Homo sapiens: one gene and its partners. The protein of the gene in region 4 interacts with the protein of the main gene of each other region in a biochemical or structural test. Each region holds a gene or a part of one and is shown on either strand. Other genes may lie near its edges. The genes, in order: SPI1, GLI3, HIPK2 and SKI.

Region 1 (8,116 bases), on a different chromosome or scaffold from region 4:
GAGCCAGGGAAGGTGATGGGGACCCAGCGTGCGGGGGTGCTGCAGGCCTGGCTGGGGTCTCCCACCATGGTGCAGGCCCTGACACCTCCTCTCTCAGCAGCCATCAGAAGACCTGGTGCCCTATGACACGGATCTATACCAACGCCAAACGCACGAGTATTACCCCTATCTCAGCAGTGATGGGGAGAGCCATAGCGGTGAGTACGGGGCCTGCCACGCCCCCATCCCCCAGCCCAGCCTGGGCTCCTGGGGTCTGGAGAGAGAAAAAGAATAAATGATTCCCAGGACTTCTTTGGAATTCTGAGAATCAGATCAAGTTTGCTCTCAAAGGCAGTGAACTGCAGCATCATCGCTGCACCCCCACACCTGAGCCTCCATTATGGAGCCTCTGCAGTGTGTCAAGGTGCGGGGTTCATTTCTTCCATGGTTATCTGCTGGTTCTGTCCTTGTGGTCTTCTTTATAAACAAGGAAACAGGCTTAGGGTGCTAGGAGACTTGCACAAGGTCACACGGCTGCTGGGTGGAACCCAGGTCTGTCCGCTCCAGGTCCTGTGCTTTTTTTTCTGCCCCTGCCTAACTACCCACCTCCTCCTCTCTGTTCTCGTCACTCTCTGTCCCAAACTCCCCGCCGGCACATCCGCACTTCCTGCCATGTGTGGTTGGCAGGGTTTCCTAACTGTGGCACTGCTGACATTTTGGGTGGGATGATTCCTGGGTGGGCTGTCCCGGGTACCGTAGGAAGCTTAGTGGCATCCTTGCTTCTACCTACCACATGCCAGGGCCATGGCCAATCATGACAACCAAAAATGTCTCCACCCATTGGCAGATCCCCCCGGGAGGCAAAATCACCCCTAATTGGGAACTGCTGGGCCGAAGGAAAACCTATGAGAACCTCTTGTTCAGCAGAGGCCGAGGCCCCCAGTTTGCTGAAGTGGGAGGAAGAGGCCTGGGCCAGGGTGTCCTTCTGTCTGTCCAGTCCTTCTGGGTCTGACTGTCTGCCCCATAGCCCAGCCTCCGTCCTGGAGCAAATTCAGGGGATGGGAGAGAGGCATTAGGTGCCTGGGACCTGAGCAGGGGGCTGCGGGAGGTTGCCCAAAGTGGATCTTGGCTTATTGATGTAGACATCCCTGACCCAAAGCGAGGTGGCCTAGTCAGTGGGTGAGTCGTCACTGGGGAATTCCTCAGGGCGTCTGGGACCCGGGCAGACCAGCGACTGGGGTGTCTGCACCTCAGAGGGCAGAGGCCCACAGCCTAGGAAGGTGTCACTCCTGAAGGCCACCCCTGCGGCCAGTCATGCCTGTAGCTCCATTCTGCAGATGCACCTGTGGCGGTCTAAACCTGATGGGCCCAGCTAGGGATCCACATGTGCCTGGTCCACATTTAGGGCCCCAGATTCATCCGGAACTCAGACTGGAAGCCATATCCCAGGGGTAGGCGGATATGCCTCCAGGCCACAGCTGGGAACGCACAGGCATCTTTTAGAATCTTTCAGGGCTAGAAAGCCTTTAAAATATCCTTTTTAATTCCTTCAAGCTTATTTGTAATTATGTAAAAAACACATCCTCTTGGTGGGAAACCCAGGCAATGTAGAGAGAAAGTCCCCCTCCCCCAACTCCATCCCCAGCTCTCCCTACCAGAGTGAAGAGCCCGGTCTGGGGGACCCAGAGACCACGCACCCACCTTCCCAAGCGGTTCCAGGACTCCAGGAGGTCCCGCTGGGCCCTGGGACAGGCGCCCCCTGGTGGCTCGGGTCACCACAGACAGTGCTGTCAGGCCTCCTCCAACAAGGACGCATTCTCCCTGGCCCAATCCCTCTTCAGTTCACTGGGCTTGGGTGCGTTTCCTTTGGGCCTTTTGCAGCCTCAGTTTTCCTTCCTGTAATATGAGGGCGCTGCCCACATAGCTGGAAACCAGTGAGCCTGGGGCTGGGCCTGATGGAGTGAGCACTTTAGAGAAAGCATGTGTTTTCGTGGCTCAGGGTCCAAGCAGGTTCCTTATATCTCAGGTGGGACTCTAGGAATGACTCCTGATTGGATGCCTGGGCACCCCATGTTGGTCATGAACCCCTAGTTCCTCCAGAGACTCCACCAGTGTTCCCAGGTGTCCTCGGCCTTGGCTCTGTCCCACTCTTAATCACTGCCAATCAGGGCATTTGGGCTGTCCTTTTCTTTTTTTTTTTTTTTTAGGACAGTCTTGCTCTGTTGCCCAGGCTAGAGCGCAGTGGCCCAATCTTGGCTCACTGCAACCTCCGCCTCCTGGGTCCAAGCGATTCTCTTGCCTCAACATCCCAAGTAGCTAGGATTACAATCGTGCACTACCATGCCTGGCTAATTTTTGTATTTTTAGTAGAGATGAGGTTTTACCATGTTGGCCAGGCTGCTCTCAAACTCCTGACCTCAAGTGATCCACTTGCCTCGGCCTCCCAAAGTGCTGGGATTACAGGTGTGAACCACCGCGCCCAGTCTGTCCCTTTTTTTTGATACGGAGTCTCGTACTGTCGCCCGGGCTGGTGTGCAGTGGCACAATCTTGGCTCACTGCAACCTCCGCCTCCCGGATTCAAGCGATTCTCCTGCCTCAGCCTCCCAAGTAGCTAGGATTACAGGCGCCTGCCACCACGCTCAGCTAATTTTTTGTATTTTTAGTAGAGACAGGGTTTCACTATGTTGGCCAGGCTGGTCTCGAACTCCTGACCTGGTGATCCGCCTGCCTCAGCCTCCCAAAGTGCTGGGATTACAGGCGTGAGCCACTGCGCCCGGCCGGGCTGTCCCTTTTTATACCCGCTGGAAGGTATCGTCTGAAGACTCAACCATAGAGACCCCCACACACTTCTGTCAATTCCTGCACGTCCTCTTTGTCCACATTTTTAGGTACTGAAGCTTAGTGAAAAAGCTTTGGCCCAGCCCTGGCTCCATCACTTACCAGCTGTGAAAACTTGGGGCAAGTAACATAACCTTTCTGAGTCCCTATTTCCCCATTTATAAAACTGACAGCATGAAAATACTTACCTCCTAGGGCTGTGATGATTCAGCGAGGTAAGGCATATAATCTCTGAGGTAAGGTAACGTGCAGAGGACGAGGCCCGTGCTAGCTTCACTGCATTCCTCAAGGCAGGAGGGACAAAGCGGCTGGGGAGTGGGAAAAGCACAGAGGGCTCTGTGAGAGACCAACTGGGTTATTTTCCACTGACCCAGGGGACAGTCAATCTGCCACCCACCCCCACATCCATGCACTCACCCTCCCATCCACCCACCTACTCGTCCATCCTGCCAGCCGCTTCCCATCTGATCCACTTTTCCTCCCTATTCCATCCATTAAATAGTTTCTGAGTATCAGACACTCTTGTAGGCTCTGGGGAGTCCATGATGAGCACCAGACAAGGCCACTGCTCTCACAGAGCTCACTCTCCAGCGAGGGGATGGGGACATAAGGAATTAAATAGGCTGGGGCGTGGTGGCTCATGCCTGTAATTTCAGCATTTTGGGTGGCTGAGGTGGGTGGATCACGAGGTCAAGAGATAGAGGCTATCCTGGCCAACATGGTGAAACCCCATCTCTACTAGAAATACAGGTGGTGGTGCCCACTTGTACTCCTAGCTACTTGGGAGGCTGAGGCAGGAGAATCGCTTGAACTCCGGAGGCGGAGGTTGCAGTGAGCTGAGATCGCGCCACTGAACTCCAACCTGGTGACAGACAAAGCGAGACTCCAGCAAAAAAAAAAAAAAAAGAATCAGACAAAGAGACCATTTTCTGCAGATGTAATGCGGAGTGTCTACATGGGGGGCTGCTTTCATTTGAGTGGTCAGGGAAGGCCTTTGAGGTGGCAGCTGAGCTAAGAGAAGGAACTCGTAATTCACATGTGACCATAGGTAGGGGAGAGGTATTCAAGGTAAAGGGAACAGAAAATGCAAAAGCAGAAAGGACCCTGACAGAGGACCAGAGAGGCCAGTGAGCACAGGGCAGGGGACAGAAAGGGAAGCCAAAGGGGTCAGCTGCTCACGCAGGGCGAAGGCCATGGCAGGCATTTGGATTTTATCATACACACCATGGGAAGCCACTGGGGAGTTCTGAGCAGGGAAATGACATGACCATGATCTGAATAACCTTCTGTGTATGTGTGTGTGCTGAAAATTTAAATACATTTACAATCTTTTTTTTTTTTTTTAAGACGGAGTTTCACTCTTGTTGCCCAGGCTGGAGTGCAGTGGTGTGATCTTGGCTCACTGCAACCTCTGGCTCCCAGGTTCAAGCGATTCTCCTACCTCAGCCTCCTAAGTAGCTGGGATTACAGGTGTGCACCACCATGCCCAGCTAATGTTGTATTTTTTAGTAGAGATGGGGTTTCACCATGTTGGCCAGGCTGGTCTCAAACTCCTGACCTCAGGTGATCCTCCTACCTTGGCTTCCCAAAGTGCTGGGATTATAGGCATGAGCCATCACGCCTTGCCTTTTTTTTTTTTTTTTTTTTTTTTTGAGATGGACTCTCGCTCTGTCGCCCAGGCTGGATTGCAGTGGTGTGATGTCAGCTCACTGCAACCTCCACCTCCCGGGTTCAAGCGATTCTCCTGCCTCAGCCTCCCGAGTAGCTGGAACTACAAGCGAGTGCCACCATGCCCAGCTAGTTTTTTGTATTTTTAGTAGAGGCAGGGTTTCACCGTGTTAGCCAGGATGGTCTTGATCTCCTGACGTTGTGATCCACCCGCCTTGGCCTCCCAAAGTGCTGGGATTACAGGCGTGAGCCACCGTGCCCGGCCTCCAGTCTTTCTATTCCAGTGCTATGTAAATGTACAAATGAAGATGTGGAATAGAGACTTAGAGCATTATTTATTGGCAAATATTTATTGAGTGCCTTTGATGTGTCAGGCAGCTTGATTTTTCAGTTAGAGATATATTTTATTTACTTGTACAATCAGAATTCAACTTTAGTCATTCACAACACACACACACACACACTCACATTTCTCCACACATCCCCAATTCATTACTCTATATGGTAACATTTGTTAAATCAGTATTTGAATTTTCCACTGTTATGACCATGTGGCTATTACTCACAGCTGAGCCACATGGCATCCTTTCTTTACCTGTACTTTCTCATATCCATATTTCTTTTAATTATTATTATTTTTTTATGAGACAGTCTCACTCTGTCGCCTAGGCTGGAGCACAGTGGCGCAATCTCTGCTCACTGCAGCCTCAGCCTCCTGGGTTCAAGCAATTCTCCTGCCTCAGCCTCCTGAGTAGCTGGGATTACAGGTGCCCGCCACCACGCCCAGCTAATTTTTGTATTTTTAGTAGAGATGGGGTTTCGCCATGTTGGCCAGGCTAGTCTTGAACTCCTGACCTAGTGATCTGCCCGCCTCGGACTCCCAAAGTGCTGGAATTACAGGCGTGAGCCACCATGCCTGGCCTTTTTTTTTTTCTTTTTTTTGAGACGGTGTCTCTCTGTGTTGCCCAGGCTGCAGTGCAGTGTGCAATCTCAGCTCACTGCAGCCTCCACTTCCCGGGTTCCAGCAATTCTCCTGCTTCAGCCTCCTGGGTAGCTGGGATTACAGGTGTGTGCCACCATGCCCAGTTAATTTTTATATTTTTAGTAGAGGTGGGGTTTCACCATGTTGGCCAGGCTGGTCTCAAACTCCTGACCTCAGGCGATCCACTGGCCTCAGCCTCCCAAAGTGCTGGGATTACAGGCGTGAGCCACTGTCCCCGGGCCTCATCCCCATATTTCTGAGGGGAAATGTAGCAAGGAGATAAGAACTCTTCTGAAACCAGGCTGCTGAAACTCATCCCCCATCTCCTCCATTGCTATCCGGGTGACCATGGGCAAGATCTCCAACCTCTCTGTGCCTCAACTTCTTCATGACAATACCAACTTCACAGGATGGCTGTAAGGACTGAACGAGCTACTGTATGTCAAATGCTTAGAACAGTGCCTGGAAATAGCAAATGTTTTGTACAGATTTGTTATCATGGTCGTCTCCTAAGAAAGGGTGTGTGGGAGGTGAGGTTTTTGTTGTGGTGGTGATGGTTTTATTTTGTGTTTTGCCTCATGTCTTTTATTCTATGCTGTCACTTAATTAATCATAGTTTGGCTGTGTATGGAAATCTAAGTTGAAAATCATTTTTTCCCTTAGAAATTGGAAAGCATTTTTCTACTGTCTTCTGGTTACTAGAGTTTTTCCTATGAAGTCTGATACCACTCCATGTTCCTTTAAATTTCTTTTATAATTAACCTAGCTTTTTGTTTGTTTCATTTGTTGTTTTTTTTTTTTCTCTCTCTCTCTTTTGTTTTCTTTCTCTGGAAGTTTTTAGTATCTTTTCCCAATGTCTCATGATTCAACTGAGTAAGCTTTTTAAAAGGTCACTCTGGGTGGAGAGCAGATGGAAAAGAGGCAAGAATAGGAGCTGGAAAAAAGAACATTGAGGAAACTATTGCAATAATCCAGGAAAGAGATGGTGGTGACCTGGACAAGGGTGGTGGCAACAGAGACAGAAAGGGGGGGACAGATTCAAGATAGACTTTGAAGGGCTTACAGGATTTGCTATTGTTTATTATGCTTTTTGTTTGTTTGTTTGCTTTTTTGAGACAGTCTCACTCTGTCACCCAGGCTGGAGTGCAGTGGCGTGATCTCGGCTCACTGCAACCTCTGCCTCCTGGGATCAAGTGATTCTCCTGCCTCAGCCTCCCGAGTAGCTGGGATTACAGGCATGCGCCACCACACCTGGCTAATTTCTTTGTGTGTATTTTTAGTAGAGACAGGGTTTCACCATGTTGGCCAGGCTGGTCTTGAAGTCCTGACCTCAGGTGATCCACCCGGCTCAGCCTCCCAAATAGCTGGGATTACAGGAATAAGCCACCATGCCCAGCCTATTACTCTTTTTAATTGTGGTAAAATACACATAATATTAACCATTTTTTAAACCATCTTAACCATTTCTTTACATTTTAAGTGTATAGTTCTGTGATATTAAATATATTCACGTTATCATCACCATCCATCTCTATAATTATTTTCATCTTGCAAAACGGAGACTCTGTATTCACTGAACAACAGCTCATTTTCCCTCCCCCCAGCCTCTGGCAGCTACCATTCCACTTTCTGTCTCTATGAATTTGCCTATTCTAGGTACCCCGCATGAGTGGATTCACACAGTATTTGTTCTTTTATGCCTTCATTTAGCATAATGTTCTCAAGGCTTACCCATTTACCCATGGTGTAGCACGTGTCAGCATTTCCTTCATCTTTAAGGTTGAATCATATTCCATTGTATGCGCGCGCCACGTTTTGCGCATGTGCCACGTTTTGCGTATCCAGCCGTCCGACACTTAGGGTGTTTCTGCCGTTTGGCTATTGTGAAGAACGCTGCTATGAAGAAGGGTGTGGAAAGACCCTGTTTTCAATTTTTTTGGATATATACCCAGAAGTAGGATTGCTAGATCATATGCTAATTCTATTTTTATTTTTTTGAGACGGAGTCTCACCCTGTCACCCAGGCTGGAGTGGAGTGGTACGATCTCAGCTGACTGCAACCTCCGCCTCCCAGGTTCAAGTGATTCTTCTGTCTCAGAATCCCGAGTAGCTGGGATTACAGGTGTCCACCACTATGCCCGGGTAATTTTTGTATTTTTAGTAGAGACAGATTTTGCCATGTTGGCCAGGCTGGTCTCGAACTCCTGACCTCAGGCGATCTGCCCGTCTTGGCCTCGCAAAGTGCTGGGAATACAGGTGTGAGCCACTGCGCCCGGCCTATTTTTAGTTTTATTAAAAATTAAACCATCGGCCGGGCACAGTGGCTCATGCCTGTAATCCCATCTCTTTGGGAGGCTGAGGCAGGCGGATCACAAGGTCAAGAGATTGAGACCTGGCTAACATGGTGAAACCCCATCTCTACTAAAAATACAAAAAATGAGCCAGGCGTGGTGGTGGGTGCCTGTAGTCCCAGCTACTCAGGAGGCTGACGCAGGAGAATGGTGTGAACCTGGGAGGTGGAGCTTGCAGTGAGCTGAGATTGCCCCACTGCACTCCAGCCTGGGCGAGAGCAAGACTCCGTCTCAAAAAAAAAAAAAAAAAAAAAAAAAAAAATTTAACCATCATCTATTTCCCATAGTGGCTGCATC
Region 2 (8,449 bases), on a different chromosome or scaffold from region 4:
CTGCCCATGGACATGTTTTTCTTCTGCAGTTAAACACAAATGCATAGAGACGTTTGACTGCTGCTTGGCGTTACTGCTCAAGTTATATAAAAGCTTTGCAGCTCCTTTTGCTGTCAATATATCAAAGTTTAAAAAAAATCATCAAAGTGTGAAATTTCATTTAAAGTCTTCGCCAGTCTACAGCTCTATTTCACAGGCCCATCAAATAAAAGTAAAGATGAAAAATACACTGAAAATACTTGAAAAAGTTTGCAGCAGTACCCCCTGCCCTGTTGTTGTTTATTCTGTCTCCCTTTATTTGCTTTGAAACCAGAAACAGATCAATTTTCATCTAGAAAAATGACAACGTGAAGAGAAGGGCAGTATCTTCTCCTAGGCTTTAATGAAAAGACAACCTGAAGTCATTATTAGAGTGGAACCTTTTGTTTAACAAACGTGTGTGTATGTGTGTGTGTGTCCTATAAAGTCATTTCAGCATTTTAATTGCCTCTCATGATATAAGTTGGCAGAAAATTTACTGAATCTTCCAAAACAAATCAGACCGACCTCAGAATATGAATGCCAGCAAAACTAAAACCTCCTTCAAAGAATTCTTTAGCTGGGGATTTACAACAATTGCATAAAGAAGAAAAGTCTGACTTTTAAGATAATCTACTATAGTCTAAAAGCATTAACATTCCATTGCTAAGGTTTTCTTGAGGATTTCATGACTCATTGATTCACTTTTCCTTCAAGACTGGTTTTTCTTAGTACATTACTGTCTCCATGTAAGTGAGTGCATGCAACAATGATCATTAAATTGTTTCTTTTCATAAGCTCCCAAACTCTATCCTCAAAAAATGGAGGGGGAGAAGAGGTCTCAGTAAGCAGGATACCTTACATAGGAGGAAGGACCTCTAAATGGCTAAGCACAGAGGAAGTCTGAAATGCTTACAGCATGCAGGTAATTAAGGAAACTTCACTGGCCAAGAAACAAAGGAAAGTCCAACTTTTAGGCTTGCACATCGAATTGATAAATTAACAATTCTTTCATTAAATAATTAATGAAATAACTCTACAGAGCCATTTTTCATCAGTATTGAATTTTCTCATTTCTGTCTATGGTCCTTTGCAAATTAGATATACAATAGAAATGTGTTTATATCAAGGTTCAGTCAAGGAACACAAGCATGTTAAAGGCACTGGGAATTGGTAGGCATCTGAGTTGGACCTACCAGCCTACTAACAATAATACAATCTATATCTTTAAAGTGTTTCTGCTTGTGTGAAATTTCACTAGACACCTCTCACATTGGACTCATTCATGCATCTTAAACCAAAGCTTCCCTAGGCTGACTTTAAGAATTGCATACCCTGAAAGGATCTCCCCTTAGGCGGGGAGTTTCTAATTAAATAGCTTTTAGTATAAAATAAACTCTCTACTCTGTATAAGCATGCTATTACAACTAATTTAAATGTTATTTCATGTTTGTTTTAGGTTTGAATATAGTTTAACTGGCCAAAGTGTTTGTGTACCAGGTCGTTAAGACCAATATTTCCTAACATAAACAAATTCTTCAGATACTTCACAGAGTTTACATTGTTAAAACCAGTCCCGGCAGCTTTAATATATCCCCTCAACTGAAATACTGTTCTGCTTTAGAAAAATTAAGAGATTTTGAGGCTATTTCACTATTTTAAAACATAGCATTTTCCTCCTTCAAAAGAATCTTGACACATGTAATTAAGAAACTGTCAGACTACTATTAATTTTTAATCTAAAACCTAAATGAAATAATTACAGGAATCAATCAATAAGGCACCTATTCAAAATTACCGAGCAATTACATAAATACTCAAAATTAATACTTTAGGTCAATTCTTGTAGATTTCGGTCTATAATATGCTAAGACATCAAACAACACAAAAAGTGTAGCATGGGGAGGATGAATGGTTCCTGCCTTAAATAGACTGAAAAGAGCTCATTTCAGACGGCCAGGGTGCAGGCCCCCCACCCGCCATGCCCAATGCGCTCAAGCTGAAACTCTTTTATTTTTAAAAGTTAATTTATTTCCACCAGACACATATTTCAGGGATCTAAAAAAACGGCCTCATCCAAATTCTGTACAAAAATCACATTTAAGAGGGAAAGGCCTAATTACTCGAATTTTCAGCAAAGTGTATATACTGTGCTCTGGAAAGCCTAACTGGAGAGAAGAGGGAGGAGAGGAAAAGGGGAGCAGGAGGTATTTTTTAGAACTAATAATACCAGCCCGGCTAATGGCACTGCCATGTATTTGCACAGCGGCCGGCCCTCCATACCTTTGACTAAAGGGTTCTTTGACTTGGAGACGCAGACAGTCCATCATTTCAAACTGAAGTGGCAGCTGGAAAATGTGGAACAGCTGGCAAAGAGCTGGGAGAAAATGTTTTACATAAATATATGTACATATAAACTGGCAGAGGGCCATGAGCACTGTACCCAAGGCCAGAATCTACCCGGCAGTCTGCACTGGGGAGATGAGAAGTTGGGGCAGGATGACCAGCGGCGGAGGGAGCCTCCTTAATCCTCTTTCCACGCGGGGTCAGGCAGGGAAGCCTGGGGTGCAGCGCCTCTCGGGGGACGGCATCTTACAGAAGGAGGTGCAATGGGGGACAGGAGCACAAAGTTCAGGAAAGGATAAAAGGCCGGGTGCGGGGTGGAGCGTCCGCTTCGGACAATCTGCTTAAAAGTCGCTTCACAAACTCTGCAAGTTTGGGATCAATATTTACACCCTCTCTGCCTTCTCCCGCCCGTTTTCCCGCTGCTACTCAAGAAAGTAACTGTCCCCTGCTGCTCTGTGTAAACGCGGCACCTTAAATGATTATTGCATGGACCACGGTTACTTTGTGTGTCTGTGCGCGCTGCCCCTGGAAAGGAAAAGAAATAAGAGAATCCCAAATCATATACAGATGGTACAACTTTCACTTTTCCTCTATGACGACGAAGGCGCGCCTCTCTCCATCCGCTCACACCACACCCCCGCCCTCCGAAGCATAGCCCGGGCTGGAGAAGCCCCAGCGGCGGCGGCCCCCGCGGCGGAGGTCCCCGCGCGCACCCACCATGCCTCCCGCCTCCTTCCGCCCATCCCGAGCGCCGTGCGCGCCCGAAGCCCGAGCCGTAGAGCGCCACCGCGCAAAGGAAGGAGCCAGGCGCGTGCGGGGCTCGCGGAGTTCTTCTGAACCCTTTGGATGGGGGCGGAGGCGAGGGGCGCCGCCACCACTGCGGCAAACTTCGTCCCCCCTCCGGGAGGTGAAATTCTCCAATCCGTCTCCGGCCGGTCCGCGGGTCGGACTCTTCGGAAAGGACCTTCCAGGAGGAGGGAGCGAATGCAAGCCTTGCTCGGACGCCTCACCGGCGGCTCTCTAAATCTGGGCGCCTTTTGACAGCCATTTTCACTCCATCCCGTCCCCACGCTGGGGACCACCTCTGGCCCCGGAGGCGCGGGCGCGGCCGCAGGAGCGGGCTGCGGGGTCCGCGAAACAAAGAACTTCGAGCGGGACGTACCTGCGGCGGCAGCGGCTGTCAAGTCCCCGAACTTCCCATAGACCCGCGGACGGGGCGCAGGCTGGCGGCTCCCCGCTCCGCGCGGCCGCGGGCGGCTACGGCTACCGCGAGCGGCCGGGCTGGGCGCGGGGTGCGCCCGCCGCGGGCATGGTGCGGCGCGGGCGGCCGCGGGGCGCGCGGGGAAGGCGGGAGAGCGGCGCGGGTGAGTGGGAGCGGCGGGTGTGCGCGAGTGCGAGTGTGCGAGCGCGCCGGTGGCGCTGCCCCTGCCCGCTCCCTCCCGCTCGTGCAGCTCCGGCATCAGTTTCGGGGATCGTGTAATCCGATCCCTTCTGACTCACAAGCCCTGAGTGACAGTTCTGATTTGGTTCAACCGCGGGAGGGAGGGGAAAGAGAAAGAAAGAAACCCCCAGCCGTACGCCTCTCCTGGCATCCAATCGACTTTCTGGAAAAAGGTCCCATCCCGGCCTGGTGCCCCGTGCTGGGTGGAGAAGCCCCCCGCCCCGACCTGGCACCGCCTGCACTACTCACGGGGTGGAAAAGTTGTCCCTCGGCTCCGCGCTCCCCTCCCGCGCGCTCCCTCCTTCCCTTCTCTCCTCCTCTTCCTCCTCCTCCCCGCGCTCCTCCTCCCCCAAGTTTTAACAGATGTTGCCGGACTCTCCTCGCTCCCTCGCACTCTCTCTTCCTCCGCCCCGGCCCCCGCCCAGTCCCTTTTCTTTCAGCCACTCTCGGGCTCGGAGGGGACGCGCTGAGCAGCAGGACGCCTGCCGCCGCAGGGGGCGAAGTTGGGAAAACTTGGAGTGCTGCTCGCCTTACTTTTGCTTTCTCGCTCCTTCCAGGCCGCGCCGGGAGCCCCCGCTTCTCCCGCCCGCCGGGTCCCCAAGCCCGGAGTGGGTCCCAGCTGCGAGGCGGGCGGCGGCGGCTGGGAGGCGGCGCGTCGCGGGCCGGGGTCGGGGGCTGGGGGGGAGCCCGGGCGCCGCGAGCCACGCGCGCGCTCCCTCCCCGCCCTCCGCCGCCGCCGCCGCCGCCGCCGCCGCCTCCTCCTCCTCCTCCTCCTTCTCCTCCTCCTCCTCCTCCTCCGCCCCTCCCCGGTCTTCACACAGACACATTCATGCCTGCTCCTCCTCTTCCCCCTACTTGACCCCGCGCCCTCCCGGCGCGCCGAAGCCCCACCCACCCGGCGAGGGGAAGGGGGCCCGGGCGTGATGTCACCCGCGCCCTCTCTCTTCTCTCTCCACACCGCCAGGACACCCCCCAAATGCGCGCCCTGGCACTCGTGCTGCGTCCTGTCTGCTCCCATCTTCTCCCACCCAGCCTCTCTTTCTCACTCTTGCTCAAGGGCTGGACTCCCCTTTATTCTTTTAAGGCTTCTCTGATTACCACCGCCCCCCATCCTTGGCTCCCCATCTCCTTGTTTTACATTTTCCCAAAGCCATCCCCGAAACTCCCTCTCGCGGGATGATGCCTTTGGAAGTTCAGGGTTTTTCTCTCCACCGGACTCGTCTGCCCTCGGGGCCAAATCCGCGAAGCGAGGAGGAGCTCCCACCACACAGCCTGCTGTCCCTATGGGCCACTTTATAAAAGACACAAAAACAAAGACCCCAGGCTTGGAGCCTGGTCTCTAACGTGCCGCTTTTCCTTGAGCTACAAAGTGTCTCTGTCCCTGCTTCATTTTCAGAGGCCCATGCTAGTAAAAGTTATTTGGCCTCCTTCCTCGACCATCCAGTCCTTGTTCATCTGCGTCATTTTAATATATCCAACCTGGACATGTAACTTAAAAAAGGAGTTCTCGGGGGGAAACACAGGAAGAAAAAGAAAGAAAAGAAAGCCCCTGTGACATTCCAACATCCCCTCTTTCTGGTTAAGCCGGGTCCACCCAGCCAGAAGTGCCCCGGAGCTCCGGGTTGCTTGTGTGGCGTTGCCGCCAAGTGTCTTGACTGAAGGAAGAGTGTGGGTGGATGAATGATGAGCTATTAGAATTTGAAGAGCATTTTGAGATTCAAATGCTTAACTGAAGAATCTTTTAACGAAATTGAGGGTGGTATTCATTGTTTGTTTCTTGGGACTCCTTCCTTGTCACAATGACATGACAAGTGCAGAGACAGACTTAAGGTTTTATGGTGGAAGTGGTGGAGGTAAGGTGGGGCTAAAGGCCCTAGTTAGCCATTTGTTTTAAGATTTCCCTCGACCTCACGGCTCAGGAAAAAACAAAACACCACTGACTCATCGCAGAGAGCACGAGACTCAGAAGCCCTGTGGCAGCCCCATCTCCGCGCTCACTAACTGGCCTCAGGCCTGGGAGGATTCTCTGAGCCTCCATAGGCTCTGAGCCCATCTAGGGGATAGTGTTAGGAGTGCCAGGTCGCGTACCTCCCAGGATGGCTGAGGGTTTCCAATGAGAAATACATGGAAAAGTATAGAGGGCTACAAGTGTGTAAGAATTATGCTTTTACAATTGAAGAGAATTGCAAGCCACTCTTTCCTTTATATACTCCCAGCATCAGTTACAATTGTTTTTAGTATTCATGTACTGCTTCTGCCTCAATCACATGAATACAAATAGTACATCCTGATAGCCTACTCTGTTCACCCAATGGCAAAAAATAAATACAAAGAAAGACAGCCAATAAATCATCAAATAATAGAATAAACTAGATATTTCGACTCTTACTTCAGTCTTATAGCACATTTTGAATCATGAAGATCTTGATTTTTCAGTTCTTAAAAGACAAGAACAAAGCAAAAGCAGCTAATCTTTCCCCCTATGCCCGTCACAATAGCTAAACAAAAAAGAGGAAGAATAATGCTGTGTCTCTTATGTGTCCAACTCTGCTTTAATGGTAAACCCATACATATAAGTAGGCACATTTTGCAGAAACAGTGGAGGGGTAAAAAACCCACTTTGCCTGAGTGTGGGTTAAATAATGTCATAATGCAGTGACTTTCTCTCTGTGTTAACACCAGAACGCTTTCCAAATTAAATCTTACGTAGAATCCCAAAATATAGAAGAGTTATTATGGTTGAAATTGGAGTGAGGTCTCGGAGCCCAATCCCCCTAAGCCTTTCTCTCTTTCCCTTTCCTGCAGTTGCTCCTGAGACATCTGTAAAAACCCAAAGACACCCAGAAAGACAATGCTACAACCTTTGTTTGTAGTGATACACAGCACTAAGAGACTTACAGGATTCTGTGCACTGCCCTTCCTTGATGTCTGAAATTCTATCATAGATTGACTTATTGCCATCTCTCATCAGTTCTCTTTTCAAATGCAGATATCTTAAGAAATTTTAATATAGTAAGTCCTCAGAATAGTTAAGCTTTTAAGACAGACTTTCTTTCTTGTTGTTGCAACAGTGAAGTAGGAGATACTTGAAGATACTTGCATTTGTTTTCTAGGGCCATGGTAACAAAGTACCAAAAACTGGATGGCTTAAAGGACAGACATGTATTGTCCTATAGTTTCTAGAGGCTTGAAGTCCAAAAGTAAGGTGTCTTGCAGGGCCACACTCCCTCTGAAACCTGGAAAAGAAATTTCTCCCTTGCCTCTTACTGGCTTCTGGTGGTGGCTGTCAATCTGGGTGTCCCGTGGCTTGCAGCTTCTCCCTTTCAGTCTCCACCTCTGTCCTCATATGGCATTCTCCCTTTGTCTCTGGCTTCTCTTCTTATAAAAGCACGAGTTATATTCTGTTAGAGACCCACCCTACTCCAGAATGACCTCATCTTAACTAATTACATCTGCAACAAGCCTGTTTCCAAGATCATATTCTGAGGTTCCTAGGGTTAGAACTTCAACATTTTCTTCTGGGGGACATAATTCAACTCCTAACAACACTGCAAAAGATAGTGGGAGAGGAATGAAGGATACGCAAGAGAGAGAACAAAGGATGAACCTGGAAACAAACTTCACGTGCTCCTCTGATTCCTACCATGGGCCGATGTTATACAAATACTTTTCTCCCCTCACTTACCATGGCAGTTCTTCCATCTCCCTGCACAGTAGCACCCAGTTAATTATTGGAAAATTCCAGGAGGATAGTCCATGTGTACTAATAAACTTCAAGTTGCATGGGACAAAATTCCACCTCCAATTGACTTAAGTTAAACTTCAGAGGGATTGGGTGGCTGTTTTTATTGACAAAAAAGTCCAGAAACATGTAGGCATGCTTTAGGCAAAACAGGATCTAGGGGCTCCAATAACGTCTACTGGGTTCTGTTTTCATCTTTCGGCTCCACTTTATTCACACTTCATACAAAGTTTCTTTAGGCAACCGAGGAAGGTGGCCAGAGGCAGCTGCATTTTCATAATCAATCTGAGAGTTTGCATTCCCAGAAAATAATGACCTTTCCCAAGTGGATCCGATATTCCCCTTGGCCAGGCTCACCTCTCTAGGTTTCCTCCTGCCCACTCTGCTTTCCTGGGTCCTGGTGATTTTGCGTGTTCTGCACACACTTTGCCAGCCAGCCTGCATGTAAGGAAAGTACTAGGGAACAAAGGTAGATCCCTGGCCACATGAATCTCTCAGGAGTGCCTTGGGAAAGGAAACACTCTGGTGAAGAGTGGTTGGGCCTGAGCCTCCCCACGCTGACTGGCCAGCTGCCAGGAAGGAGAATACTTTTAAGTGCATCGCACACGGGGCCCTTCTTGGGGTCTCTCACTCAGCACCCGCGTAACTTGTTCTTCCATCTTCCTGGAACATTGGGATTATAAATGTAACCCAGATGTCTGCTGTGTCCCTCTTCACCTTGGAGATGTAGCTATAATTGGCTTGGACCTCCGCCAATCCCACAAGTTGGGAAGATCTAAAACCCTCTCTTTGGATTTCTGCAAATTTCAGAGCCCCTGTGGATGCTGTGTGACATTGACCCATACCCTATACTCAGATCCTTGCCTGCTCTTCTGGAAACTCGCTCACAGCGGGCATGAGGT
Region 3 (5,045 bases), on a different chromosome or scaffold from region 4:
AAAGACATTATGCTAAGTGAGATAGACCAGACACAAAAGGACAAATATATGATTCTACTTACATGAAATATCTAGGATAGGCAGATTCATGGAGACAGAGTAGAAGGGTGGTTGCTAGGCACCGGGTGGAGGGAGAAATGGGGAGTTGTTAATGGGGACAGAACTTGTGTTTGGGATGATGAAAAAATTCTGGAAATGGTGGTGACACCTATACAATAATGTGAACGTATTTAACGTTGCTAGTAGTCCACTTAAAATGGTAATTTTATATTATGTATATTTTACCATAATTTAAGACAAAAAGAGTGTCAGAAGGCTGGGAAACCCCAGTCCCAGCAGGATGTGGCGTTTCTTAGGCTTGCTGAGGTGGAGCTGCTGCAGGCACAGCGCCTGGACGGGGCTGTGGCGCACGTAGCTCAAGTGCGCAGTGGCAAGGGCCCTGGCAATGGGCCAGCAAGCCACGAGGCTCCGGGTGCTGATGGTGTCTGGTGAGACGGCAGGGCCTGGGTGCGGAGGATCCGGGATGCATATTGGAAAGCTTCCAGGACAGCAGGTGACAGCCACACCTTAGGTGTCAGGGACAGAGATTGGGAGCAGATGGGGCTGAAATGGCTTGGAAGAGGCAGCAGGAAGCTGGGAGACTCTTAGCCCCACTCAACTGCATGGGAATTGGTAGTAATGTGATCTCAAGGCCCCCCACCTCTCTCTGCAAATGTTCAATGCAGTGGTGGCTTCTACACATTTCCAGAGCCATTAAATAATCTCGGCCCGGCGCAGTGGCTCATGCCTGTAATCCCAGCACTTTGGGAGGCCGAGGCAGGTGGATCATCTGAGGTCAGGAGTTCGAGACCAGCCTGACCAAAAAATGGAGAAACCCCATCTCTACTAAAAATACAAAATTAGCCGGGCGTGGTGGTGCATGCCTGTAATCCCAGCTACTCGGGAGGCTGAGGCAAGAGAATCACTTGAACCTGGGAGGCGGAGTTTGCAGTGAGCCAGGATCGTGCCATTGCCCTCCAGCCTGGGCAACAAGAGCAAAACTCCATCTAAATAAACAAACAAACCCCAAATATGTTACTTGTAACAATAACCTCTTCGCTTTTATGACAGGTCTGGTTCCAGGATAAATAAGCATGCCAGGCAGGTGTACAGTGATTTCAAACAGTTTAATGTAATTCCAAGACAAAGTGTGATTACATTTCTACACATATACAATATGCATATGTGAGTTTACAAATTTTAATTAATAAGTCATTTCACCTCGGAGACCGAAAAAATGATCAAAAAGAAACTATGAGTAACAAGCTATAACATAGTTCACCACAATGGGACCCCCCCCCCTTTTTCTCACCCTACAGTTAGTAATATTACAATTAAAATAACTATATTCTTCTATATTTTTTCTGTTAAAATCATCTCATAAATTTACAATGCTATTATTAGTTTCCAAGACTAATATAAATTCACTCCATTTTTCTACAACGAAAATGATTAATTTAGAAGCACACGACGTCATGATGAAAAACACAAGCATTTTAGTAGCAAGGACTTGATCAGTTAAGAATTAGTTTTCTTGTAAAACATTCTAAAGCCAAGTAAAATATCCATTCTTATAACATACCTATAATATGAGACTAAGGAATAGGTTACATATAGGTCTACAACACATTGGTTTGTCTTTAAAAAAACAAAAGTAGACATTTATAAATAAAAAAGAGGGACAATTCACATAGGAAAAAGAGGTACACGAGAAAATACTGTTGCACGCAATAATTTTCACACAGATTAACATGGATTAACACTTTTTATTACAGAAACCGTACGGTGAAGGAACACAACAGACCAGGGCTTTCATAGGGTTATTGAGATTGAGCTGAGATGACCTGGGAGAGAAAGATCTAGGTGAGATGACCCTGGGGAGGGAGCCACGTTCCTTGGACCTGGTGACTTAGTGTCGCCGGGTCTCCTCTTCCCTGTTCTCATTTTGGGGAGTGAGTCTTTCTATCCAGTGTCCTGAATTCATGAGCAGTTGAAAGGTAAACATTTCTGCAGATCCATTCTCTTTCTATCCTAATGGATACCATTTTTGGAAACGTGACAGAGTATCAGAGGCTGCAGCTCAGTACACGTGGTCAAAGCAAAACGGGATGGAAACTTCCAGTCACTCTGATTTGTTGCCCCCGTCACCCACTGATGCGCTTGAAGCTGGGACCCAGTGAGACAGCAGCAGCACCCTACAGGGCCTGCTGGCTCTGCCGTGGTGAGGTGGATGACAAGGGCCCGGCGCCACGCCTCAGCCCCATGTGTGCGGAGTGGCCTGGGACACAGCCCATGCACGTCCAAGACACCAGTCTTGACTCCGACCTCTAAAGAGCTCCTTCTCCTCATCTGTAAAGCTATACTTCTCCTATCCAATTTGGTTTGATATATATACACAAACATATATATCAACATCTATCTCTATACAGTGATTCTACTAAATTAGAAATTCTGCTGCCCCAAAGTATGACTTTCTTGTCTATTTCATTTGGTTAAAAAAATGCACACACAGAGGATGAAGAGATGATTTGGGGGCTAGAGATGACTGTGCCCTGGAAAGTCCATGGAAGAAGCTTGAAGTGAGCAGGAACACAAAAGGGAGGAGAGCAGAAACGGGGGACCGACTGACTCAGGGCAGCGCTGACGGGAACATCTGCTTGGGGTGGGGCGGGGCGGGGGTGTGCTCTCTGTTCCATTTGTTAGTTACAGGAAGCTACCAAGGATGCACATGGTCAAGTCACTTTCTACTTCCCAAGTTCCTCCTTATAACCTGAGCCAAACAATTTCAACAATGACAATCCATTGCCCCTTCAGCCCAGCAGGCGACTCTGACAGGGAGGTGTGACCACCAGTCTCAAGGCTGAGTGGGGCCTTCTTGCTGGCTCTCGCGCTTTCTGGGAGTCCTGGGTGCCTTGGCCCAGGGCAGTGGTGACAGCAGGGTGGAGGCAGAGGTGGCCCCGGGGACAGTGACCCTATATAAGGAAGGGGGCGGTGCCAGGAGAGATTCGTTTGGAGATTGGTTACAAGGAAGCGAGGGAGAGCAGAGGCAGAGCCCTTTTTCAGATACAACATACTTACTTTTCAAATGAACAAAAGGCAATTTCTATGTTTTAAAAATATAAGCCCCAAAAACAATGACACAAAATTCATTTGGTTAATTCATGTAAAGGAAAAAACAGCAACACCACCACACAAACAGGAAAGTGGGAGTATGATTAGGAGGGGTGAGATGAAAACTATTTTACAGTAACATTTCCACCAAAAGACTGTCCTAAGAACACGCTGTCAATACAGTTCACAGGGAAAAAGCAAATGTGGTATTTTTTTGTATTTTTTAAAAGCTCCCTGGTCCCAGGTGTTTTGCAGTTTTCAAGGTCTTATCTGCTAAAGGAATGCCCTTTAGGTCACAGCAGGTCCTCTGCAGTTTGGTGGTGGCACAAGAGAAAACATAAAAGAAACCAAGACTCAGGGAAACTGCCATTCCCCCAGTCTGTTTCTGCATGACAGTGGGGCCCATTCCTGTCTCGAAGCATCTTCTTGTTCCAAATATGATGTCTGTTTAGAGTGGGTCTCAATGGACCAGGCTGAGCTGCCCCTCTGTCTCTGCCTCCTCCTGCTCAGCCCTGACCATCTCTGAGAGGATGCTAAGGTCCCCCTCCCACCGAACTAGACTTTGAGTCTAAGCTGGACAATGAGTAAAACGTAAACATAGCCTTTTACATTGATTTTGCTTTTAAGGGGAAAACGAATAAATGACAGCAGATATATGGAAAACCCAGCCAGCGACCATGGGAATAGGGGTATATGGTCCTCCCCTACAAAACGCTGATCAAAATATCACCCCCGGCCCAGAAGTAGCAGCTGTGCCTTCATGGTCACCTGAATCCCAGTCTCTTCTACTGCCTGGTGCCTGGAAATCAGTGGATCTATTAATAAGTTAAATATTCAAATCAAGACAAAAATCAATGAACCAGGTTATCTGTTCTCAATGACTCTTCCAAGATGTCAGAGAGAAGGCCTTGAAGACAAGTGTTTAGACGACACGCATGAGACCTTCGCATCTGGCCCGGGCTGCGGACTCACACCTTTTCCCTCCATCTGGATTGCCTTTCATGTTCTCTTGAGTTCACGTGGAAAGTAATAATCCAGAGGGAAGTGCGCATGCTGGACTACAGAAGAGTCTGGGACAACACACTTGCCTTGGGGGAGACACAACCTCCAACTAAGAGGCATTCACTGGGGTTTGCGGATGTCAGTTATAAACAGAACTTTTCTTTAAAAAGTACCAGTCTAAATGTAAACTATAAAACACTTTAACTATAAAACGTAGCCAGAAATATGCTTAAGTATCCACAGTCAATTGTTTAGTTTACTCATTTAAAATGTGACTGTTTTGATAGCTTAGAAGGCTAACAGCATTTTACAGTAGCTAAAAACATATATACTTAACATGTGCATTTGAACATCGCATTTGAGTACAACACACAAAGAATAATCTCTTCCTTGGTTTAATTTTTGTTGTAAAGATGAGCTATTTTCAGAATTCACTTAAGCAACGATGACCGGGGGTATGAAGTAATCATTATTTTCAGCCCACAGAGAATTCATAGTCTTTAAATTCCAAGATCAAGCTGGCTACATGATTTCAAAAAAGGCTAAAACCAGGATGAATGCCCACATTTGAGGTAATTATTGCCATTAGGTCACAGTTTGTGTAAGATAATGTATCTAAAACCTTCTAAAAAAAAAAAAAATCTTTAGGTGTTCTGCCAGAATTCCAGAATACCTATTGAAACCAACCAGGATCTCAAACTCCGATTAGTTAGGTTTGCTTCCAATGGAGTTAAAGTTCTAAAAGATTCTAGAACTTGTGTAAACTACCTAAGAATTTAGGCAAACAAGCCTGGAGCCAGTCAACAAAGAAGGTTTTAAATGAAAAAAGGAACAAGAAACCCACTCAAAACAACTGAACAAATATTTCATAATAAATGATAATAGTTATTTTA
Region 4 (8,116 bases):
ACCCCACGCTCACCCTCACCAGGCAGGCAAGAGTCCCCTCACTCTGGGGCCCCGGGCTTGTGCCACCTCTGCAGAGGGAAGTCTCAAGGCTGGGAGTGCCCGGCCCCCATCCTCAGGCATCAGAGCCTGTCAGGGCCATGGAGGCAGAGCACCCTGTGCCCAGAGGCCCAACCGGTGCCATGGCAGGCCTGTCCTGGGTACCGTGTAGGTCCACGCAGGGCCGCCGACCTTCCAGGGAAGCGCAGGGAACAGCATGCCTAGGATGCAGAGGCCCAGCTTGGCCCAGTCATCTGGGAAACCATAAAAAAAGAGGGCCACGGGCAGCTGGAGCTGCCATCCACTGCCACGCAGAGGCTTCTCAGGCCACAGGATCCTGAAGGGAGGCACGGGGACAAACTGCTTCCTAAGGAAGGCTCGGGTTCTCTGAGCACGGACAATGAGGCCTAACTCCTCTCAGACAGACCTCCCAGGGCCAGCTGGTGAGGGAGGGAGCCAAGGATGCCCACCCTGGAGCTGCCTGGACCGTGGGCAGCCACACCAGGCGGGGACCTGGGGCTGCCACAGCCCAGCGCCTGGCACAGAGAAGCCCTTGACAGCACCAGGCGGGAGGGCACCGGGGAGAGACGCCCGCCACACGAGGGTGATCAGCCTCTCAAGGCCCGTTGGACTCCTTAAGTAACCCGTCCTGGATAGGGTCAAATGGGCCAACCTCAGACCTCCCACAGAGGGCGCCAGCCTCCCGGGGCCCTCAGGGATGAGGCGTTCACGCGTGTTCTGCAGGACGAGCTCAGCACCCGGCCAGACTGGCCTCCACGCTAAGGACAGACACGTTCCCTCAACAGGGCAAGAAGGACCCAGCCTATGGGCCTTATTTCCAAAAAAAGAAACCAAGAGCATTTCTGTTTCTGGGCAAAGATACATCTGCTCCATAGTAAAAGCAACAATGTTTCCATGTTACTTTCCCGGCAGAGAAAGCCTGCATCAGACTCTGCAACAACTGTGCCCCCAGTCAGCCTCCTCTCAACAGCTGGACCAGGGGTTCCCAGCAGGCAGCACCCCAACCAGGACAGGGTGAGGGCGGGTCTGCAGGCTGACAGCCGCTTCTTATTCTCATCACTTACAGGTTCACTCCTGGGCAGAACAACACAACGTAATTAGCGGACACCTGGCTCTCCTGGCAACATGGTTTCCCCTGTAGAAGAAGACTGACATCAAAGGAAACCACCGGCACAGCCGCAGCCTTCAGGAACCACAGCAGCCAGGAGCACCGCAGGGAGCACCTAAGCCACTCCAGATACACACAGGGCGTGGACAGAGAGACAGAGGCAGCGCCAGCACCGCTGGACACCTGCTGGGCGCTCCCTGCCCTCCCACCACCCCTCACCCACTCCTGACGCACTTCCCGGTGAGGTCAGCCAGTCCTCAGGTGCCCCCATAACGGCACACAAGCTGTCGTGGAGTCACCATCACCTCACACACGCAGCTCAGGGGTCAGGTCTGGTCGGGAAGGGCCACACAAGAACCCAGTTAGTGCCCTGGGTCCTGGGGTGGAACCCTCAGGACAGAGAAAGATCCCTGATTTGGGTGATGGCATCCCCTGCCACCCATGCCCACCTGAGGCCGCCAGCCTGAGCTGCGTTTCTCTGAAACAAGCAGCACCGTGGGACCTGCAGGAAGCCTAGAACAGGAGCTGTTTCTTTCTAAGTCAGCCGCCGACGTTCCAGCAGAAGCCGCAGTTGGTCCAGGCAGGGCTGAGAGCTGGGAGGAGCATCAGCACTCAGCCTCACCAGCCAAGGGTAATAATATTCCAGCAACTTCCCAGCCCTCAATATGGAACCAGGGTAGAAGCGCCCCCCAGGTCAGAAGACGGTGAACCAATTTCTTCCAAAGGTGGAACAATGGCCAGGCGCAATGGCTCATGCCTGTAATCCCAACACTTTGGGAGGCCGAGGTGGGCAGATCAAGAGGTCAGGAGATGGAGACCATCCTGGCCAACATGGTAAAACCCCGTCTCTACTAAAATACAAAAAATTAGCCAGGCGTGGTGGCACGCACCTGTAGTCCCAGCTGCTCAGGAGGCTGAGGCAGGGGAATTGCTTGAACCCGGGAGGCTGAGGTTGCAGTGAGCCGAGATCACGCCACTGCACTCCAGCCTGGGCAACAGAGCAAGACTCCATCTCAAAAAAAAAAATGGTGAAACAGTGAGAAAAGAAACAGCATTCTCCTTCTAGCCAAAGAATGGACCTGCCAATAAACCTTGACTGCCAGTGCCTGCAGAGTTCCACTGAGTCATTCAGTGAGTTATTGAATCTGGCCCCCAAACTGGGGACCCAGACGTGACCAGGCGTCCCTAACCCTAGCCCCTGAAGCCAGCAACACAACCACACAGGCAACAACCCCCACGGCCAGTGAGACAAGCACCCCAGCAGAGGCAGCCCAAGAAGGCCTGACCAAGGCCGCCAGGTGTGCCAGCCCAAGAGGCAGGCCTAAACGCCCCGATTCAGCATCTGCAGCTGCAGAGGCACCGAGGCAGAGCACTCCTTCCATCTTTATGAGTCAAAAAGGTAAAATCAGAGAAGACACGAACACCAAGCACCGAACAGAATCTCGGCCGTTTCCCAGGATCACGCCGAGACGCCTCTCAAAGCCCCCTTTATCTGTTTCCCCCCAAACAAAAGACAGGAGCATTACTCAAAGGAATAAGCACTTCAAGCGAAGGCCTACTAGGCGGCCGGCAGGACACATGCTGAGGGCCACAGGCGCCAGGCACCACCACGCCACCTCCGGGCCATGGCCAACGCAGGTGCTCAGTCCATCTGGTCCTAGTCTGGATTTTACTATTGTCCCCACAATCTCATTTAAAATTCACACTCAAGTCCTGGTTCTTCATTTTCGTAAATAAGCAGGCTCATGTGGCAGCATGTCCCCAGAGCTGGAGGCTCCCTGGGCCCCCCATCGAGGCCACCCCAGCAAGGCAGCCTGGAAAAATATCAAGTACCACACAGTGAAACCAACATGCAGGCTCTGGGAAGCGGGGCCCTTCTGGAACTCTCTCATATTCACAAAGCAGCAGCACCTAAGAGCTATCGCTTATCATGCCCCCCAGCCCCCGGGGTGAGCCAGAGCTTCCTGAGGGTCACCTGGCATGGCACCTGGTCTGCAGAGGGCAACCAGGCCTCGAGAGAACAGGTGGCACAGTGGGGGCGACCCCTCCAGCCCGCAGACCCCGGGGATGCCTTCCGTGGCAGAACCCACTCCAGGGGCCAGGCACAGTGGCTTATGCCTGTAATCCCAGCACTCTGGGAGGCCAAGGTGGGCAGATAACTTGAGGTCAGGAGTTCGAGACCAGGCTGGCCAACATGGTGAAACCCCATCTCTACTAAAAATACAAAAAAATTACTTGGGTGTGGTGGCACACATCTGTAATCCCAGCTACCAGGAGGCTGGGGCAGGAGAATCGCTTGAACCCAGGAGACGGAGGCTGCAGTGAGCCAAGATCGCACCACTGCACTCCAGCCTGGGCAACAGAAACAGACCCTGTCTCAAAAAAAAAAAAAAATAACAACAAAAAAAAACCCTGCTCCAGACCACGAGGGTGACAGCCAGGGCAGGGCAGGAAGGAGCCGCCCTACCACCCGCTCTGGAGGCCAGGTGTAAAGAGCTGGTCCCCAGGCAGCCCCCCCTCCATGACACCCTGGCCTGGTGACCACTGCTCAGGAGGGGAAGAGCCCTGAAGAATAAGGACAGGGGCCTTCTTTTCCAGCTCTCCCAGATATTAGGGAAATAATTCACCTTCTGTATTTTGACTCAAAACAAAGAAACTTTTTAAAAACATTTCAGTTGAAGCTTGCATAATTCTTCCAGTGGAGAAATCCTCCCTCAACTTTCGCAATCCTTAGAAAGAGACACATTATTGCCACAGAGAGCCGGGCCGCCGGCGTGGACACCTCCTGCCAGACAGTCAGGGCCCAGGCCCCGGAACCACCGCCTTCTCTCTGGAGGCCCTGCCAGCAGCAGTGAAGGCCTAACCTAAGCTGGGGCTGTGGCCCCACAACCCCGAGAGACTCCAGGGCGGGGTTCGGCTCACACTTACCCCAGACTTCCTCGCACCATATCCTGTCTGCCCTCACCCGGAGACTCAGACAGACAGACATTGCACAAATAGCCGCAGGGACGGCTGAGAAACAAGATGCTGAAAGAGAGGACTAGCCCCCCCACCGTGACCCTGCTGCCCCAGAAGGCGAGGGACCCAGCCCAGCTCCCAGAGGGGTCCCAGACAGACGGATGACAGACCATGCCGGGAAAATGACCACTAAGCTCTGCTCCCTGCAGAAGCCACCTGGGGGCAGCTGCCCATGCCCTCCCCAGTCCGTGCACAGCCAGCTGGGGTGGGCAGAGGTCAAGAACCACTCTCGAGCTGCTGTTTCCCCTGCTTGAGAAGACTCAGCAGCCGGCCGTCTTTCCGGAACCCTCACCTGGGGGGCAGACCAGCCCAAACCCGCAGACCCTGGCCTTCTGCACGGGGACCAGGGCCTGCCGGGAGCCTGACCCCAGAGCATGGCCCAAGACTACAGGGAACCCCACGAAAAGCTGGAGAAAAACACTTGCAGCAAACACTTTTTCCAAAGGAAGCTGGTGGACAAAGGGACAGATAGCCCCCGAAGTGCTCCCCGGACCTGAGGGTGTCTGGGAGAGCACAGCCCCAAACCCACACACGGCCGCTGAGCTGAGTGAGGGGTGTCCCAGAAAGAAACTCTTGATGCTGTCCCTTCCTGTGATCATTTCAGCTTAAAACAGCAAAGAGCAAAACACAACTCCTCCCCAGAGGCTCTCCAAGCCCAGCAACCCCTTCCTGGCCTCCACAAGCTCAGTCATTCCCCAGAACAGACCTCGAGACTCAAAGGTCTCAAGCCCGACCACCTGGCTGGGCACCTGCCTGAAGAAACGCTGCCTGGGGCCAGGGGCAGCCTTGCAGTGACACGGGTCAAAAGCCAGCATGAGGGATCAGAAAACCCCCGTCGCGGACCCTCCACTGGGAAGCGCGCAGAGCTTCCCAACCAAGCGACCCTCAACCCACAGCCCACTGAGACCCACGCCAGCCCACACAGCGCAAGGGCAAGGGGACCTGCAAGACCCCTGGGAATTCAGGCATCTGCAGGACAGAGCAACAACACTGTAACACAACCCAAATTCTCCAGTCACCAGAATGCCCAGACTGCACGTGGCAGGTGAAGAACAGCTCTCACACAGGCAGCCCACCGCCCCTAGGAACAGGACGCCCGGCCCCCTCGGAGCAGGACCCCCGGCCCAGAACAGGACCCTGGCCCCCTCAGAACAGGATCCCGGACCTCTGGGAACAGGACCCCCCCCACCAGCCCTGTTGGAACAGAAACCCCGGCCCCCTCGGAGCAGGACCCCCCCTTGGAGCAGGATCCTGCCACGGCCCAAGGGAAGCACGGCACCACCCTGTTATCAGCCTGCACGGAAAGCGCTTGGCTGACGTTCTGCGGGACAAGGGGCCGCGTCCCAGGCAGCAGGCCAAGCGGCAGCTCCAACTGCCACATTTTGTCTCCGTCTCTGACAGCTGTCTATACTGACAAAAAAATGTAGTCCAATGGAGTCCTACAGCTATCAGAGAACCCGAGGAAGGAGGCGAGCCGACCGGAAAGAAGAAAGAGGGGTGGGAGTGGGGAAGGCTCAGAGGCTCCAGTCTTGGCTAAGTGCTCCCAGCAGCACAATGACCCATCTGTGCCCCACCTGTACCACTCAAAACATAAAGTCCAAGATCAATAAACAGTAGTCCCCAGTTTACACTGAGGCAGAGAGGTTAAGCAACTCGTCCAAGGTCACAAAGCCAGTGTGGGACCGAGTGGGGAGGTGAGACAAGGTCCCCTGTCAAGGATAGCAGCCCCAGGGTCCCTAAGAGGAGACTCGCCAAGCACCCATGCAGCCCACATGGTCTTCCAAGATACAGCAGCAGGAAGCTGGCCGGGCCCGACAGCCACTGGACAGAAGCGGAGGCTTCCTCTGTAACCCCGTGACATGAGGGGGCATCTGGAGGAAGACTGTCTGCCCCTCATGCTGCCACTGCACTGCCGACAGGCCAGAGGCTCAGGCACAGCCGCTGTCACAGGAGGCTTCCAAGGAGAAAGCTGCAGCCCTGCCTCCCACTTGGTTTGGGACCCGGGAACATCTCCGCCCTCTCCCACCTCCCACCATGGGTAGGAGAGTGGCGCTGACCCAGCCCACTCAGGCAGGAGACCCGACCCTGGCCTGGCCACAAACACCCGGAAGGCAATTCAGCCCCCTCCGGCTCCGCAGAGCCCGAAGGCCTGCTGGGAGCAGCAGCCCTGCAAAGAGAGTTCCAGTACATTCTTTGTTCTGCCCTCATCTTCGGCAGATCAAAAATATTAAAATAAGCTACAAAGGAAGTGAAGAAATCAAAACATATCCCGAGAATAAGCTGTCAAGACACGAGTGGGAGGAGCCAACGGCGGCCAGTGAGGGCGGAGGCGGGGCCTCCCAGGCCACTCCTTCTAGGACAAGTAGGGTCTGGGCACTGTGGGTCCACGCCCACCCTGAGACCACACTCCCTTCTCATGTGTCGCTCCTGTGCACACAGAGACACGCACACGGCTGTCCTGAGGAGACTTAAGGGGACCCTGAAGCCCAGAACTCCCAAGTGCACAGTCACAGAGCCTAAAGGGCAGGCACTGAGCGAGGGCAGAGTCCCTGGCCGCCATCCCACGTCAAGAACATAGAGCAGGAGGCAACACGGGCAGGATGGGTGCCCCACCCCCAGGAGCATGAGGAGAGGAAAACCCGCAGGAGCTGGTGAACATTCAGGGAGCCAGGCGGAGGACACCACTGCCAGGGCCAGGCTGTGTGGCTGCCACTCAGGCCTAGAGGACGCAGTCACTCACACCGTGCACGTCGTCAGTATGGCCTGGGAATTGCTTTTTAATCGGTAAATGAAATTTCAGAGCAGTGCTGGGGACTTCAAAAGGGAAAGGCGGCTCGGAGGCATCCGCTGAGATGACCAGAGCCTGTCTGGCCTGTCTCTATGGCGGCCCAAGGACCCCGGCGCTCACAACCACAGGGAGAGAGAAGCCGGGTGGCCTGGGCCCTGCTCTGTGTCAGCTGTGACAACGAGGCCCCACTGGCCACTCCAATGGGCCCCCAGCAAAGCCCAGGAAGACAGAAAGACCACAAGCACACACATGACCCACAGTCGGACAAAAACAAACGCAGACACACCCTGCTCAACCGAGATCCTCTGCCATCAGCTCTGAAGACAGTGACGTGAGCGTGTCCCAGCAGCTCAGGCCTTGGCCACAGGTGACCCACTACGCAGCCTGCACGAGCCCACAATCCCCCCCGACATGTGGCTTCCTCCAGCCACAGGCACTGACGAGGGTGCGGCCACCCCAAAAAGAAAGGCCCCAGCCCACAGGGAGCGCCATCGGGCCCACCCCAACCAACTCCCCGTGTGACACGAAGGGCCCCAGCCTGCTACGTCTGTCTGCAGCTCTGCCACGAGCATCCTTCCCCAGCCCACAGGTCTGCAGGCGGCTGCCACCTGAGCCCTGGCCTGGCAGGGTCAGAAGCGCGCACACACAAACACACACATGCACACACACATGCACCCTCCGCAGCCCCCTCCGAGCAGAGGCGACAGTCCCTCGCTTCCATCCACAGCCCCTCCTCCCCACGATCTGACACTCTGCTGGAGGGGCGCCCAGAGAAAACCGGGCTGGAGCATCTATTCACAGATTTAGAAAAAAAAAGTTTGATGCAATAGCTGAATTAATTAGGCCTCCCAAGAATAGCTGAGCCAATGCAGCATTCTGTGTGTGCAATTTAATAAGCCTGGATATTTAAAAGAAAAGTTACAAATACTTGGGGAGGTACGCAACGGAAAGTTCCTGAGGACCCCACTGAGTAATTTCGGCACCTCGTGGCCTGGGAGCTGCCCATGCCGGATCCCATAGATCCTCCAACTGGCAAACAACAAAGCCAGGCCAGCAGCCTCCCTCTCCGGCGCACCCCTCTGCGTTTCAGAGGGAGAGAAGGAAATGGGTGAGTCCAAAGCAAATCGCAGGCCGCCAGTAACTCC

What was found.
Region 1: the proteins of SKI (region 4) and SPI1 form a complex in vitro, tested with the Homo sapiens proteins (one study listed by BioGRID).
Region 2: the proteins of SKI (region 4) and GLI3 form a complex in vitro, tested with the Homo sapiens proteins (one study listed by BioGRID).
Region 3: the proteins of SKI (region 4) and HIPK2 form a complex in vitro, tested with the Homo sapiens proteins (one study listed by BioGRID).

Annotation. Positions count from the first base shown.
Region 1 is NC_000011.10:47,367,714-47,375,829, reverse strand, and holds part of SPI1 (transcription factor PU.1), read left to right. Parts: intron 1-97; coding exon of another isoform or gene 98-100; coding exon 101-197; intron 198-8,116. UniProt on the Homo sapiens protein: Pioneer transcription factor, which controls hematopoietic cell fate by decompacting stem cell heterochromatin and allowing other transcription factors to enter otherwise inaccessible genomic sites.
Region 2 is NC_000007.14:42,233,445-42,241,893, forward strand, and holds the start of GLI3 (transcriptional activator GLI3), read right to left. Parts: upstream 3,766-8,449; 5' UTR 3,527-3,765; intron 2,391-3,526; exon of another isoform or gene 2,302-2,390; intron 2,296-2,301; exon of another isoform or gene 1-2,295. UniProt on the Homo sapiens protein: Has a dual function as a transcriptional activator and a repressor of the sonic hedgehog (Shh) pathway, and plays a role in limb development.
Region 3 is NC_000007.14:139,560,423-139,565,467, forward strand, and holds the end of HIPK2 (homeodomain-interacting protein kinase 2), read right to left. Parts: 3' UTR 1,148-5,045; downstream 1-1,147.
Region 4 is NC_000001.11:2,230,489-2,238,604, reverse strand, and holds part of SKI (ski oncogene), read right to left. Parts: intron 7,162-8,116; exon of another isoform or gene 1-7,161. UniProt on the Homo sapiens protein: May play a role in terminal differentiation of skeletal muscle cells but not in the determination of cells to the myogenic lineage. Functions as a repressor of TGF-beta signaling.